Linked DNA regions of Homo sapiens: region 1 is linked to region 2. The links come from fine-mapping of genetic effects on gene expression. Tissue or cell type: whole blood. Region 2 holds a variant in brackets; the other region holds the start of a gene. All regions are shown on one strand. Distances are between the middles of the regions.

Region 1 (2,916 bases), 8.2 kb before region 2:
GTCATTAGCTCAAAGGTAGTCATGTGTGAATTGAGATCTGCTGCCTATTTAGCACCTGGATATATTTTTAAATATTCTGTCCTTCCAGGGCATTCTAGAAAATAATATTATGTTGGAATAACGATTTCCAGGGCAGATGCTATGTCCTCATCACCAAGGGCTTCATATGAAACATTGAGTCCTGGTACTCTTGGTACTGTCACTATATCTATCATTTGTTTTTGTTCATAGTCCGATCTTGGTTCTTGGCATGAGAGACATGCTTCCCTGCAGCACATCACCTTGGGCCACCTGCAGAAGGTGGCTGGACCATTCAGGTTCACCAAACCCAATCTGGAAAGAAGGCCAGTTAGTGCTGTGGTTACAGCTGAGCATTTGGTCACTGAAATCGTCTGGATGTTGCTGGATGGAAAAAGTTACTTAAGATCTTTGTGAGATGGTTGTCCTATTTTGTCCTTGGCACAAGCAGTCCTCTTACCCATGGTCATCGTTTCTGCAGGAAGAAAAAACAAAAAAATAATTTGGCTTTCATTCATACATTTTTTTTCTTTTTTTTTTTTTTTTGAGACAGAGTCTTGCTCTGTCACCCAGGCTGGAGTGCAGTGGCGCGATCTTGGCTCACTGCAACCTCCGCCTCCTGGGTTCAAGCAATTCTCCTGCCTCAGCCTCCCAAGTAGCTGGGATTACAGGTGCCCGCCGCCACACCTGGCTAATTTTTGTATTTTTAGTAGAGACAGGGTGTCACCATGTTGGCCAGGCTGGGCTCGAACTCCTGACCTTGTGATCTGCCTGCCTCGGCCTCCCAAAGTGGTGGGATTACAGGCGTGAGTCACTGTGCCTGGCCCATTCATACATTTTTAATGTGCACCAAACAAGTGCCAGGCATGGTAATAGATGCTGGGGATACTAAGCCCATAAGTAGGACACTCCCCCTGCTTTCAAAGGGCTCACAGATGGAGATATTATGATGTGAGAAGCTGCATAGAATACTGCAGGGGCAATGGGAAGGGAGAAAGTAACTTCAAAGGGATTGAGGAGGTCTATAGAGAGCATTCTGATTGATGAGTCTTGAGCTAAGCCATTTAGGCTGAAGAGGAATCCCTCTGGAAAGAAGAAGGGTCACTTGGGGTAGAGGAAAGAGACTGTGCAAAGGCAGAATGCAATAAAGGGCATGGTGCATTGAAGGAATCATCACAATTTGGTGTGACTGGACTGTAGTGTGAGGAATGAAGTGGTCGGAGGTAAGGCTGGTGATATGATTTAGTTGTGCCCCCACCCAAATCTCAACTTGAGTTGTACCTCCCAGACTTCCCACGTGTTGTGGGAAGGGACCCGGCAGGGGAGGTAATTGAATCATGGGGGCCGGTCTTCCCCGTGCTGTTCTTGTGATAGTGAATAAGTCTCACGAGATCTGATGGGTTTATCAGGGGTTTCTGCTTTTGCTTCTTCCTCATTTTCTCTTGCTGCTGCCATGTAAGAAGTGCCTTTTGCCTCCTGCCATGATTCTGAGGCCTCCCCAGCCATGTGGAACTGTAAGTCCAGTTAAACCTCTTTTTCTTCCCACTCTCGGATATGTCTTTGTCAGCAGCGTGAAAATGGACTAATACAGCTGGGATGGAAAGATGAGGTCTGAGTGGTGCAACATCATTCCTTGTTTCCGAGATGTGAAGGAGGGGCTCTCTTAAGGAAGCCCCAGACTTAGACTAGCAGTATCTCTTGTGTTTCACACTCAGCCCAGCATTCAACTTAATTTAAACTCAGGGCACCTTCCAGCACAGATTAAATGTAGTAATACTGTGGCCATAGAGAGAAAAAACTGAAGTGACTTCTATGGATATAGGAATAACAAAATTTACACGTAAACTATAAAAGAGTAGCAACCATTCTGACAATGAAATTTATGGACTTCATTTCAGAGATCAAAAGTTCACATGTGAGGCTATAACTTACTTAAGGAAAGTATTAAAAGCCAGTGTGTTCACTGCAAAGGGAAACCACGTTTGATTGTGACCCGTGGCTTTGAAGTGTGTGCATGTGTGTGGGCACACACACACATCTCTGGGAAAGGGGTCTTTGTTTCTGTGTCTAGGAAGAAAGACTGAATGATATTTGTCTTAATATTGTGGTTCAAATATCAGTTTGCCAGATCAGCTGCTACCCTGGAGCACCATCCAAATAGCTCTACTTTCGTTTTTTTTGAGATGGAGTCTTGCTCTGTCCCCAGGCTGGAGTGCAGTGGCGCAATCTCGACTCACTGCAAGCTCCACCTCCCGGGTTCATGCCATTCTCCTGCCTCAGCCTCCTGAGTAGCTGGGACTACAGGCGCCCGCCACCACGCCCGGCTAATTTTTTTTTTTTGTATTTTTAGTAGAGACGGGGTTTCACTGTGTTAGCCATGATGGTCTTGATCTCCTGACCTCGTGATCCGCCCGCCTCGGCCTCCCAAAGTACTGGGATTACAGGCGTGAGCCACCGCGCCTGGCCCCGAATAGCTCTACTTTCTAAGCCACCATCTACATCAGGCCCGTGGTTCCCTAGCCGCTCTTTCAACTGTGAAACCCATACCCATATCAGTTTGCCAATTCCTGAGTTCCTTCCCATCAGAGAAAGCAAATTGTTAACAGGCTCAGTGTCACCAATGAATGTGGTCTGGAATTAGTTGTGATGGTATCAGCCCATATTCCTTCATTTTTGGGTACTTATTGTATGCCAGGCACTGGGATATGGACTTTACAAGTTCTTAAAAGACCCCGTGGGGTTCTTTAATGGAGGATGCAGCGTTGTAGAGACACTAATTTGCACAAGGCCACACTGTGACTAAGTGTCAGAGCTGAGATTTAAACCCAAGACTTCCAATTTCAAAGTCCAAGCTTTAGCAATTATGTCAATTCCCTCTGTAGGTCCAGTCTACATTTC
Region 2 (2,916 bases):
CTACAGAAAACCCTATTGGGTCTCCCTTCAAAATATACCCAGAATGTAACCATTTCTCACCATGTTCCTTGCTTCTACACTGTCCAAGCCTCTGTTATTGCCATCTAGATTATAGCAGTAGACTCCTAATGGGTATTCTCACGTCCAACCTTGTCATTATCTAGTCTATTCTCAACACAGCAGCAGAGAGATCAGTGATAACTTTGGATCATGTCACATCTCTCTTAAAAATTGCCATGTTGGCGAATGAGCCAAAGTACTTTTGAAGCTCTACTGGGTTCCAGTTACCTGAGCTCTGCCCGCTGTTACCTTTCTGATCTCATCCCCTACTTCTCTCTCTTTTTTCTCTCCTGCATCCCCCACATTACTCTCCTCACTATCCTCGTGTGAACCTCCTTAAGGCCTTTGTATTGGCCGTTCCCTTAGCGTGTATTTCTGCATGGCCACAGGGCTTGCTCCCTCACCTCCTTCAAGTGTTTGCTCAAATATTGCAATTGTTTGTGAGCCCTACAATTACCTCCATTAAAATTAACCCCCTGTAAAAAGTAAACAATCTATGTCACACTTCTGATCCCCATTGCTTGCTCTATTAAATTAAATTAATTAATTAATTTTTTTGAGATGGAGTCTCACTCTTGTTGCCCAGGCTGGAGTGCAGTAGCATGATCTCGGCTCACTGCAACCTCTGCCTCCCAGGTTCAAGTGACTCTCCTGCCTCAGCCTTTTGAGTGGCTGGGATTACAGGCGACCGCCACCATGCCCGGCTAATTTTTGTACTTTTAGTAGAGAAGGGGTTTTGCCATGTTGGTCAGTCTAGTCTCGAACTCCTGACCTCAGGTGATCCGCCCATCACAGCCTCCCAAAGCGCTGGGATTACAGGTGTGCGCCACCGCACCCGGCCCTATTTTATTCTTCATAGCATTTACCTTCACTATAACATAATACATCTGTGTCTCCCACTAGTCAAGTTTCACTAGAGCAAAGATTTTTGACTATTTTGTCCCTAAAAATGTATCTTCAGCACCTATAGTAGGTATTCAATCAATATTTGTTGAACAAATAAATACATCCTTGAAACTCCCATTTCCTTATGCAAAGTGATTGTTTCAAAGGAAGCTTGATTGATTCTTACTTGAACAGAATTCTTACAATACAGCAAATGATGCCATACAGTGAAGCACCTTGAAAGATTGCTGGGATAAGCTGACAGCATGGCAGCCAAAATAGTGACCCCAGGCTTGCAGGAATTCTGTGCTTTCTGGAGGAAATGGTCATGGGTTTCCCAACCTGCCTTTTAAACTAAGGTAAGTCTCTTATAAAGACCTTTATGAGAACTGTTTGAGCCCTCATGACACTGCAAATCCATCTGAGATGATGACTGGGACCTTCACTGCCACTGTCTTCATTCTCATGGGTGTTGCCTGGCTCTTTGGCATTCAGAGCTAGCTCTCAGTTGCTTTGGTGCATTAATAGAACCACTATGCCTGTAGATTTGAAGAAAAATTGACATGGAGAATTTATCTAAGAAATCAGTAAGTAAAACTTGTAAAAATCATTTTACAAGTTGTAAGA[T/C]AGAAGAAATTGAAATTCTGTCCAACAAGAACTTATTCAATGCTGACTTTGTGCCAGGCATTTTGCCAGGTGCTTGTTATACAATGATGAATAACACTTAGGCCCATTCTCAAGGAGCAGTGGGAGGTGCTGGGGATGACACACACACAGATAATATCAAGTGGCACCAAATGCTATGTCAGGGGCAGGCACAGGGTGCTAGGAGAGGATAGCACAGACGAGAAGCATTTAGCTCATACCACAGGATCTTCAGAATGCTTCCTGAAGAAGCTGACAACTGATTAGATGCTAAAAAGACAGGCTGGATCTAGGCAGGAAAAGAGGGGTTGAAAGGACAGCACAAGAAAAAGTTAAAGCAGAAGCAAGGGCATGGGGGTGAATAGAAAGCACTGTGTGAACCACCAGCCATTAGGTGTGGCCCCAACATAAAGTATAAGGAGGAGATGGAGGCAGGGTCGCAGAGGACCTTGAATGCCAAGGTAGGGAACTCGATCTTGATCTTGTTCAGAATGAAGGGCAGTTATTGAAGGATTTTTAAGTGGGAGAGTTACATGCTCAGATTTGTACTTTAGTACTTGAAGGAGTGTAGAGGTTGGATTGAAAACAAATAAGAGAGTCAGAAAACCAGAATTGAGTGATAGTATGGGATCAGCTGAAGCACCCCTCTTGCCTTGACAGATCTCACTGAGCCTGGCCCTGTGGAATTACTGGTGAGTGAGGATGGGAAGGAGGTCGTTGCCTTTAGCACTTGAGAACTCTAGGTGGCTGGTCCCAAAACAGGACGGGGCTGTTTAAATTTAGCATTTCCTGAATAGGGACCAATGGAGTTCTGAAAAAATAAGTCAAAAATATAAATACCAAAGAGATAATGAATGAAGAGTCATATATTTATCACCCACTCTCAACTGACCCTAAACTTTAGTGAACAATAAAATGGACATTAGATCTGTTCACCTGTGAACTTGATTTCAGGATATCACCATTACCACTTATGGAGGGTGGCCATTTTCTGGCTAAAGAGCAAGATCCCAAGGTCCTCTAGCTCTCATTTGCCTGACATGGGGAAGACACTGGAGGGAGGTGTAACCAGCCTGCTGCATGTGCAGGCAGCTTGCCTCTCTCCTCTGGGTGCCTCCACCCACTGTGAGGAGCTGTGTGCAGACTGTACCTTGTTTTAATCCTCCCTTGAGTACTTACACACTGACCAGCCCCCTCCTGCCTCCTGACTATTGCATACTGGAAACTTCTCCATGATCAGAGAGCAAAAGCTCAATTGCCATGTTTAGTAAAAGGTCTGCAGTAAGTCCAAATCAACTAAAAATAGTCAATTTAGTGGGTACTGAC

The links.
Region 1: it holds the start of SYT9-AS1, and the variant in region 2 is fine-mapped to the expression of SYT9-AS1 in whole blood (TOPMed, PIP above 0.99).

The regions. Positions count from the first base shown.
Region 1 is chr11:7,464,369-7,467,284 of GRCh38, reverse strand. SYT9-AS1 (SYT9 antisense RNA 1) reads left to right here and starts at 1,450. Exons shown (of 5, transcript NR_103855.1): 1 at 1,450-1,532. SYT9 (synaptotagmin 9) reads right to left here. Exons shown (of 7, transcript NM_175733.4): 7 at 1-493. The coding sequence ends at 485.
Region 2 is chr11:7,456,184-7,459,099 of GRCh38, reverse strand. The region is part of intron 6 of SYT9 (synaptotagmin 9); the gene reads right to left. It overlaps SYT9-AS1 (SYT9 antisense RNA 1), which reads left to right. Exons shown (of 5, transcript NR_103855.1): 3 at 1,141-1,304. Among named protein-coding and RNA genes, the nearest start is that of SYT9-AS1, 8.2 kb to the left of the region's middle. The variant T/C (reference allele first, on the strand shown) is at 1,573.